3 linked regions of the Homo sapiens genome follow. The protein of the gene in region 1 interacts with the protein of each later gene in a pairwise test. Each region holds a gene or a part of one and is shown on either strand. Other genes may lie near its edges.

Region 1 (3,500 bases):
TACCCTCTGTGAGCTACTTGGAGACAGGGAGGGGGCGGCAATACCAGCTGTTGGCAGCTCTGTTCTGCCCCAGCCCAACTGCCACCCACGGTGCCCCAGCCCCCCCTCCTGTCCTATCGTGTCCAACCCTAATCTGAAGCTGGTGCTGTCAGCCACATGTCACAGGCACTGCTGACGCCCCGGACCCCTGCAGTCCACAGACCACCCCCCACCCCCAAAGCCCAGCCACCCCACCACCATGCTCCCTCACTCTCCACCCTTCTCCCTGCCTCCCAGAAGCTGAGCTCCGACTCCTCCTTGGAGAGAGAGTGGGATGATGTCACTTCCTGAGGGTGGGGGGAGGAGTAGGCACGACCCCGGCAGGCTAGCCCGCCAGCCCGCCAGGCCACAGCTCGCCAAGTGGCTGCACCGGGGATAGGGAGGCGGGCCGGGCGGACATGCGGGCTGGCCACCTGGCCCCACGCCCTCTCGCCCACCCTGGGGGCTATGCCCACTGGCCAAGGGAGACTTGGCTGCTTCCTCCCCGAATGATGCCGGGCTCCTCGGACACACATTTTCCCTGGAGCCGCCACTGGGGAGAGGAGGATCTGCCGCCTGCCCCGGACCAGGTGCCATGTAAGCCTCTACTGGCCCCCGGCGGGGGACAGCTGCCCACCAACTTGGTCCCCAGCCCCCTGCAGCAGTTTAGTGCAGAGCTACCCTGGAGCCCTTTATGGGTATCTCTGGGGACCTAGCTCCCTGTGGGGTCACCTCCCACCCATGCTGCTTCCTTTCTCTTTGGGATGCTAAGGAGTGAGGGCCCTGAGTTCCTGGGCACTCTTTCCTGAGCTTGCTTGGGGCTGATTTGAATTCAGCTACTTCAGAGAGTTGAAAATCCAGCTGGAAAAGCTGCATGGCTCAGGGTGGGCTTGGGAGGTATGGTTGCCAGGAGGGGTGTGACCCTGCAGGGCTTACCCCATCCTTCCAGCAGTGTGGGGTGGAAGGTGTCCCAAGCCCTACTCCTGACCCTGCACCTCAACCGTGCTCTTCCCTCCCTGGAGGCATAGCTGTGGTGGGGACTTCTGTCTGATGGGTTCAAAACCAAGTCATAGAGCACGCTCTTGGCTTCCAGCAAAGCAGGAAACTGAAGCCTTCATTCAAGAAATACTTACTGAGCACCTGCTCTATGCCAGGCACTCCTCACCTTCCATGTTTGTCAGTCCCAGCTGCCAACCATACAGGGTCCCTTGCCCCCACCTTCCCAAGGCCTTCAGCCTTCCTCCTGCCCTGCTGGGCTTTGTGCTGTTGGGTGGGCTTGTTCTTGGTCTGGGAAGCCCCTCCCTTGACTCCAAGGACAGTGTGCACTGGGCCAGGTCTAAAGATTATAGGGTTTGAGGGCTGGGCTGAGGGTCCCACTGATCCCATGAAGGAGGAAACGGGGTCTTTAATAGAGCTCAACAGTGACTGCTGGGGTAACCCCAGGTAGAAGCCGATCCCTAGTGGCCAGTACCAGTCTCGGGGGACAGGAGAGACTCCAGGGGGAAGGCTGAAGTCTGTGTCCTGCTGCTAAGGTCCTTTGTGTTGGCTCCTGCCCGGAGGTGGGTCAGCACTTCCAGTGGCCAGCTCCAAAAATGCCTGTGCTTCTGGCCACACCGGGGACTGGTCCCGTGGCCCAAGGAATGCAGTGGCCCTGGGTGCCTTCACCTCCTCAGGCAGCTATAAGGTCCTCTGCTTTCTTTCAGGAGGTGAGCACCAGGCCCACTGAGCCTCTGCAGAGCCACCAGCCATGCCCGGGATCGTGGTGTTCCGGCGGCGCTGGTCTGTGGGCAGTGATGACCTCGTCCTACCGGCCATCTTCCTCTTTCTCCTGCATACCACCTGGTGAGTCCCCAGGCCCGGGGCCACAGGCCTGGGTTTGGAGAGAAAGGTCTGGAAGGACGCTTTCTGGCCATTTGTTCCTCCCTGCTTGGGCCCAAGTCCCAACCCTGTCATGCCCCCAGCTGCCCGGAGGAGGTGCCTGAAACATCTAGCCCCTTAGGGCAATGACACCCCTGCTACCATTGCTGGACCTGACCCCAACACTGGGGGGAGTTGCTGCTACTGTCTCCCCATGGCTGACCCTGAGTCTTTTACTGGCCGCCCATGCCCTTCTAGGCATTCGATGCCAGGTGGACAATGGTCTTATGGAGGAGGTGCCTGCTGCCAGCCCTCCTTCCACTGAATCTGGGCTGGGGAAGGGCCTGCCTGCTAGTAGCATCTCGAGGTACAGGGGCCACCTGGCCTTGCTCACACGGGCGTTCCTGTGACAGGTTTGTGATCCTGTCCGTGGTGCTCTTCGGCCTGGTCTATAACCCGCACGAGGCCTGCTCCCTGAACCTGGTGGACCACGGCCGCGGCTACCTGGGCATCCTGCTGAGCTGCATGATCGCTGAGATGGCCATCATCTGGCTGAGCATGCGCGGGGGCATCCTCTACACGGAGCCCCGTGACTCCATGCAGTACGTGCTCTACGTGCGCCTGGGTAAGGGCCACCCACCCTGGGGTGCTGCCCCAGACAACTCCCACCTCTCCATTCACTCAGCCAGTATTTACTGCGCACATGTTGCGAGCCAGGCCCTGTTTTAGCACTGGGGTACAGCAGTGAACTAAGGCCTTCTGTAGCTTACATTCTAGACTAGGGGCCAGCAAACTGCAGCCTGAGGGCCAAATCCAGCCTGCTGTATGTGTTATTAAATAAGGTTTTAGGCTGGGTGTGGTGGCTCATGCCTGTAATCCCAGCACTTTGGGAGGCCGAGGCAGGTGGATCACAAGGTCAGGAGTTCGAGACCAGCCTGGCGAACATGGGGAAACCCCGTCTCTACTAAAAATACAAAAATTAGCCAGGTGTGGTGGCACACGCCTGTAATCCCAGCTACTTGGGAGGCTGACGCAGGAGAATCACTTGAACCCAGGAGGCAGAGGTTGCAGTGAGCCGAGATTGCGCCACTGCACTCCAGCCTGGGTGACAGAGCAAGTCTCCATCTCAAAAAAAAAGAAAATAAGGTTTTATTGGCACATATCCATTCAGTAAGGTATTGTCTCCAGCTGCTTTGCCCCTACAGCAGCCGAGTTGAGTAGTTACTACAGCGACTGTAGGACTCCCAGAGTCCAAGATATTTGCTCTCTGGCCCTTTACAGGAAAAGGTGCTGACCCCATCCTCAACCATGTGCATCTCTTCAAAGCATATCTTCCTTGTGATCCTTCTCAAAACAGGCCTTCTGCTTCCTGGGAACCCCCTCAGGAGTCTGGGCCAGCTCCCCAGAGGACCAGCCTGTGTCCTCTTCTTGGGCTTAGGTTGCAGCCCCTTCTGGTCATTTGTAGTGAACACTGCTCTTGTGCTTCTGTGCACTGGGCTAGGCCCTTTTTCCTGTGTTAACTCACAGGGAGTGGGTGTTATTGGTCTCCGTTTATAGATGAGGAAACTGGGGCCCAGGCCTAGCTCTCACACAACTAGTAAGCGTGTAAATGTCGGAGCTGGGAT
Region 2 (3,500 bases), on another chromosome or scaffold:
TTTTGCACCTATACTCGCCACACCAGCAGGCGAGGGGCAGAGCATATTGTGCTGCCAGCACAGACTAGCTCTGCACAGCCTTAGCAGTGGCTTGGCTTTGTCCTGGGCCCAGACACATTCTCCAGAGAAGGGGCTGGGAGTAGGGACTGGACCACCTGGGACCTGCCTTGACACAGGACAGAGCCAGCCAGACTTGAACTAGAAGGGGCTGGGGGCTGACTTAAGCCACTCCAGGGCTTCCTCCTGGCCCCTCCAGTGTCAGTGCCGGACATGGTGCTTTGGACCAGCAGGCCTCAGGGACAGGTGCTGATAGGACACCCCAGAGGGTGTACCCTCCTGGTGTTGATGGGTGTGAGGACAGTGGGGGACTGTGCCCCTTGTCCTTGAAGCAGGAACGTTCTGGGGTGTGTGGCCAGCTCCTTCTCACAGCTTTCAGATTGTTCCCAAGGGCATGGAGCATGGAGCAGGTCCCTCGTGGTCTCTCATCAATTTGGAAGGCTCCAAATTGCCTTTGACACCCTGGTGAAAGGTTTGATACCCAGTGAGCTCCTAGCTGGGCATGAGCAGTGTAGCCATTTCCCTTCTTGGGGTCATGAACGTGCCACACTCTGCTTCTCTGCAGCACTTCTCCCCAGGCTCTCTGCCGCTGCTACCTCATTCACAGCTAGTGTTCTATGCCAGGATTGGGTGAATCATTTTAATGTACCCGGGCCCTGGGTCCTGCAAAACATATGTAGGAAATCAAAGGAAAGCCTGTCACCAGCCACAGCACCTCCGCAGCGGGAAGAGAAGGTGCAGGGTCGCACAGCCAGCCTCACTGACCTGCAGTTCCTGGCCACAGCCTCCAGTCCCTGTGAGAATGCAGTGGGCTGGGAGGGGAGGGGCTGGAAGGGCAGGGGGAGGAGACAGAAAGTGAAGGTCCCAGAACCAACTTGGAGGGAGGCCCACGGGGGGCCCGGGAGGTGGGCACTCCAGGAATAGGGCCACGGGGAAGGACAGAAGATGACGTTCCCTGACCTGTCAGTGGAGTGGGGCGGGTGGGGTCTGCATGGCAGCCCCTCCCTCTTCTTCAGACTGAACTACAGGCCTGCATCTGCCGAAGAGGGAGCGGGATCCTTTGGCATTTCATCTTGTGCTGTATGTGTCTTAAACACAAACCTTGCTATTGTTTTCCTCTGAAGAAACAGAGGATATTGAGACTCATTGTTTCAGTGGCGGGCCAGGGAGGGAGAAGCCGGCTGGGAGTGGCCTAAAGACTAAGTGGTTATTCGCCACTTAGTTAACATGGAGGAGGCTCCATGTTAACGCGCCTGTAATCCTGGCACTCTGGGAGGTCAAGGTGAGAGGATCACTTGAGGTCAGGAGTTTGAGATCAGCCTGGGCAACATAGCAAGACCCCATTTCTACAAAAAATGTAAACAATTAGCCAACTATGATGGCTTGCACCCATAGTCCCAGCTACTCAGGAGGCTGGGATGGGAGGATTGCTTGAGCCTGGAGGTCAAGGCTGTAGTGAGCTGTGATCGCATCACTGCCCTCCAGTGTGGGTGACAGAGTGAGAACCTGTCATCAAAACAAAAATCTCATGGCCATTTCCAAAGCTGACCCTAGACACAAGAGGTAACTGTCACACCCATGGGGGCCTGGATCTGGGCCTCAGCCAGCTCATCAAAGGAGCACCCGGCAGCTGTGGGAACGTGGGCAGGTAACTGTGCCTCAGTTTCTGCATCAGTAAAATTTGGACATAGCAGCACCTGCCTCACATAGCTACTGCCCCATAGCTATCAAGTGCTGTTATTATTAGTTGACTAATAATTTAAGCATCTGCTCTGAAACCAACTGGCCGACCTGTGCCGATGGCAGGGTCCGCAAGGCCCGCCCCCATCACCTTTGCCATAGGTGCCCTCTGTTCCATTCTCAGGCAGGTGCTGCATGAGGATTGGGATTGGGCCAGGCTGTGGAGGGCACACTTGACTTTTCCCTGGAGTCACCGAGTCCTGCACAGACACCACCTTCCTGGGGCCTTCCCAGTGGCTCTCCTCTCACCAAGAAGGAACAACTGAGGGCAGAGGTCAGTGTGTCCTCAGCTAAGAGCTTGATGGAGCAGCCAAGGGGTGGAGGACAGTGTGGCAGCCCCAGCCTGCCTTCTGCCCAGGGAGCAGGCTGCTTTCTAAGCCTCTCTGCATCACCCTGCCAGCCTGGTGCCAAGATGGGCAGGCAGAGCTTTGTGGATTCTGAGTGTGACACATAGCTACATCTGCCCGCAGGCGTAGGAATGAATTATCAGCAGGCTCAGATTAAAGCTTTCAAAAGCGATTTGTCATCAGTGTCAGTGTGTCGGCTGTATGCAAGGGCATCAGTTCAGGGAGGGGGCAGCCTCTGGCAAAAACCTGTGCCCTCACCTCCCCCAGCCTCCATCCTGGCCCCCAGCTGCTTGGCAGGAGGGCATAGTTGGATTGAGGGGCCTGGCAGGAAAGGAACCGCCGAGCTTATGGGTCTCAGGACTATTTCTAAAACCAGCCACAGACCTCCTTCATCTCCATCTGTGGTCAGGTTGGGGGCAGCAGTGGGAATGCTTCTTTGTTGGAGGTGACCCTTTAGGCCCGAGCTAACCCATCCCCTCCACCGGGAAGCCCACCCTTCTAGCACCCTTTCCTGGCACTCAGAGCACATCCTGCAGACCTTTGCTTATTGTCTGTCTCGTGCCTACACCCTAAGTCTGCCCACATCCCTGGCACAGATCAAGAACTCTGAAACATTTGTTCTCAGCAAGCATCGGTAGGGAAGGGGCTCGGGTCTCCTCTCTCACCTACCTAACACTGATGAATCATAAGATGAGTCCTTGACCTCAAAGGCGGACAGAGGGTGAAACTGACAAAGGCTGCCAGTCCCCAAGAGACTCTGGGAGTTCCATCTCCCTTGGACCCTCCCAGACCCTGGGCGGGCAGCCTTCTGTCGCCTCTGGCAGGTGTACACCTGTTTTGTTGGTTTGTTCACATTACTAACCTACCTGGTGACTCCCATAAATCCCTTTTGTTTTTCTTGCATTTAAGCCACTCCTGTCTGGTCCAGCATTTCCACGGATTTTGCCTTTTACAGGTGGCTTACCCAGTATTTTCACAGAACCTCTTGGTTTCTGTTTATCCTGCTGGGTAAGGCCAGCAGGTGTAGATGTGGTAGGCAGAATTTTCCATTCAAATGAAGACATGCCTATCAGAAAGCCCCTAGATTTGTGGATCTGAGAGGAGTTTTTGTGCATTCAGGAACTAGTGACCATCCTCTAGCTCATGAGGGAGGTGGGTGTTAAGTCAGCAGTCACTTTGTCCTGCTGGCAGCGTGTGCTATGGGAGAGGCTTCCCTGGGGCTCAAGGGGGGTGAGATTGCAAGCCTGAACAGGGGGCTCTTCCCAGTCCAACTTGCCTTGTTAATATAAACTATGGCCCTCCACTCAGCTCTTAGATTTTTTTTTTTTTTTTTTTTGAGACAGAGTCTTGCTCTGT
Region 3 (2,588 bases), on another chromosome or scaffold:
AGCCACTGACCAAACATTTTCCCAACATCATTAGGAATTCTTAGCAACTCCGTGGGTTGCAGCATTAAGTCCATCGCATGACTGTGCAGTTTATTTAACTTGCCTCCTCTTTGAGGGCATTACTCATGGAATCCTACACTGAGCCCATGTAGTGTAGGATTCCACTAATAAGAATCGTCTAGAGCAGGCAGATTCATAGAGACACAAGGTAGACCCATGGCGGCCTGGGGCTGCTGGGAGAGGACTCAGGTGTGACTGCTAATGAGGATGAGGCTTCTTTTTGAGGTGATGAAAAGGCTCTAAAATTGTGGTTGCACAGTCCTGTGAATATACTGAAAAACACTTTAGATGGGAGAATTGTATGGTATGTGAATTATTAAAATATCCCAGTAAAGCTGTTTAAGAAAAAAAAGAATGATTTTTAAACGTAGAGAATATAGGGGAAAAGAGAAGTTAATAGGTGGTGTCTAACAGGATAAATCTATAAATATTGGTATAAATTGGTTTTTTGAATTATGGAAGAATCACCAAAAGAAATGGCTAAAAGGCTTGGGAGGTTGCTGCTGAGGAGTAAGACTGAGGTCGGGGGAGTGCGGATGGGAGTCACCTCTGCACTACCGAAGTTTTTTCCTTGTTTGGAAATGTATTTTTAAAAAATGGAATAATCTCAGTGCAAGTCGGCACTGGGTGGAGGACACAGGTGCCCCCCTGAGCAGAACTTGGAGTCAAACCTGTGGAGTGTGGCTTGTGGGTGGGCCACATCCCTGGCAAGCTGTCCTGACTGCCATTTCCTTCCCAAGATGCAGCCGTCTGATGAGGCCACAACCCCTAGGCCCCTCAGGAGCTTTGCAGAGAGGAGGACGTGTACTCCAGGCGAGGCCTCTGGACCTGTGTTCCTGTGCCAAAGTCCTGTCAGGCTGGTGGGCACCAGGAAAGGCCTGCACCCTCTTCCTGCTCTCCCAGGAAGCCAGCTCCCTGAGCTCCTGAGCCAGCCGGAAACTCTTCCTCCAGCCTTCCGGGGAGAACATCCCTCCCATTCTGGGAAAGGAAAGCAGCCTCCAGGGAAATGTTTTCTGCCTTCCTGCTTCTAGAACCACCTCAGGTACTGATGAACCCCACTTAGCACAGCTGAAGGGGTTTGTGAATACTCCCGCCTAAATCCCTTCTACTTCACTCCTCAGGGGAGTGAAGTGCCTTAAGAAACAAAGCCCTGTCCTAATTTATCTAGCTTGTCAGTCCGGTCTTAGAGATACCCTCTTTCCTGAAGTGAGGCGTGCCTGTAGAAACACTATGTGGTCAGCCTGTCCCCAAGGAGATCTTGTGTCTCCTCTCCATCTCTGCCTTTGTTACCAGTGTGCATGTGTTTGTGTGTTTTTTAATAAAATATTGACTCGGCCAGTTGCACAAGGATTTCTTATTGAACCAGATGAAGGCTGTAAAACCTGGCCTGAAACAGTTTCCATTCGAGCTTGTGTCTGGCCCATGGCCCTCCACCCGTGCTCTGTGTGTGCCCCTTGCTGAACTGCTGGACTTCAGGTTTTCTCTCCATCTTGGGGGATAGTATAGCAGGGCAGAGTTTTAGGTAAACATGTGCAGGTTCTCAATTATATTCACGTCCTCCTTCTCCTGCAATACCAATCTTCTCATTTTGGAAAGAGCTTTAGAGCAAGCTAAGGGTTGTGTTTACACTATGATGATTAATGATCTCGGCCTAAATGTGCTGTTTCGCTGATCTTGAGCTGCTCAGTTGGCTAGAAAAAGGAGGGATGGAACAATGTTTGAGCAACCCCGTGTGCAAGGACCTACATTCACAACCACATCTAATAGCGATGGTAGTGACTGCAAGGGGGCAGGTTATAGGACCACATTTTTAGAAATGAAATCGGGGCTCCATCCCCAGGCACAGGGCAAGCCAGTGAGGAGCTGGGCTCAGGATCTAGGTCTGCCTGACTCCCAGCCCCATCCTTGCCTCTGCTGAGTGTTGCCGGAAATGGAAGCAGCCCCTGTGGGCTTTGAGCTGGAGCTCTGGGGCTACTCTTGTGGCTGCTGGCCAGCTCGGGGCATCGGGTTCTGTCTGGGATGATCTAAGGAAGCAGCACCCGTGGTGTATCTGGAGCCGAGTGCTGCTGATGGGAGGGGATCCTGTGTACCAGCTGGGCTGGAGCGGGAACATGGCTGAGCTGACCCTGGCACAGTCGGCTCCTCCAGGGCAATGGAATGGAGGAGTCTCAGCTGAGGAGGGCACGGTCCAGGTGAGGCATTGGGTCTGGGAGCCCCCTGCCTGTGTAGTGACAATGCAGGCCTCGCCAAGCAACGAGGATCCGGGTTTGACCATTTGAGCATCCCCCTAGGAGGGCAAAGGTGGGTGGAGGACAGTTGGAGGAATAGTAGCAGGAGCCAGAGTCTGCTCAGTGAGGAAGGAAAGCAAAACGCAGAGCCAAGTGAGGCCTCCACAGACAGCGAGCAGTGGACCATGCAGCCAGTGGCTTGGCTGAGGGGTGGCTGTTTGAGACCACAGGGCCTTTTTAGAAACTGGGGTTTCTGTGACCTCCCAAAAACTGTCTGGTAAAACCATCCCTTCTAAATGG

Evidence for each region.
Region 2: the proteins of DAGLA (region 1) and MAL interact in binary tests that used the Homo sapiens proteins (3 or more experiments, as listed by UniProt).
Region 3: the proteins of DAGLA (region 1) and CMTM7 interact in binary tests that used the Homo sapiens proteins (3 or more experiments, as listed by UniProt).

What each region holds. Positions count from the first base shown.
Region 1 is NC_000011.10:61,718,391-61,721,890, forward strand, and holds part of DAGLA (diacylglycerol lipase-alpha), read left to right. Parts: intron 1-346; exon of another isoform or gene 347-615; intron 616-1,721; 5' UTR 1,722-1,765; coding exon 1,766-1,860; intron 1,861-2,288; coding exon 2,289-2,500; intron 2,501-3,500. UniProt on the Homo sapiens protein: Serine hydrolase that hydrolyzes arachidonic acid-esterified diacylglycerols (DAGs) to produce the principal endocannabinoid, 2-arachidonoylglycerol (2-AG).
Region 2 is NC_000002.12:95,032,208-95,035,707, forward strand, and holds part of MAL (myelin and lymphocyte protein), read left to right. Parts: intron 1-3,500. UniProt on the Homo sapiens protein: May be involved in vesicular trafficking from the Golgi apparatus to the cell membrane. Plays a role in the maintenance of the myelin sheath, and in axon-glia and glia-glia interactions.
Region 3 is NC_000003.12:32,453,441-32,456,028, forward strand, and holds the end of CMTM7 (CKLF-like MARVEL transmembrane domain-containing protein 7), read left to right. Parts: intron 1-800; coding exon 801-814; 3' UTR 815-2,088; downstream 2,089-2,588.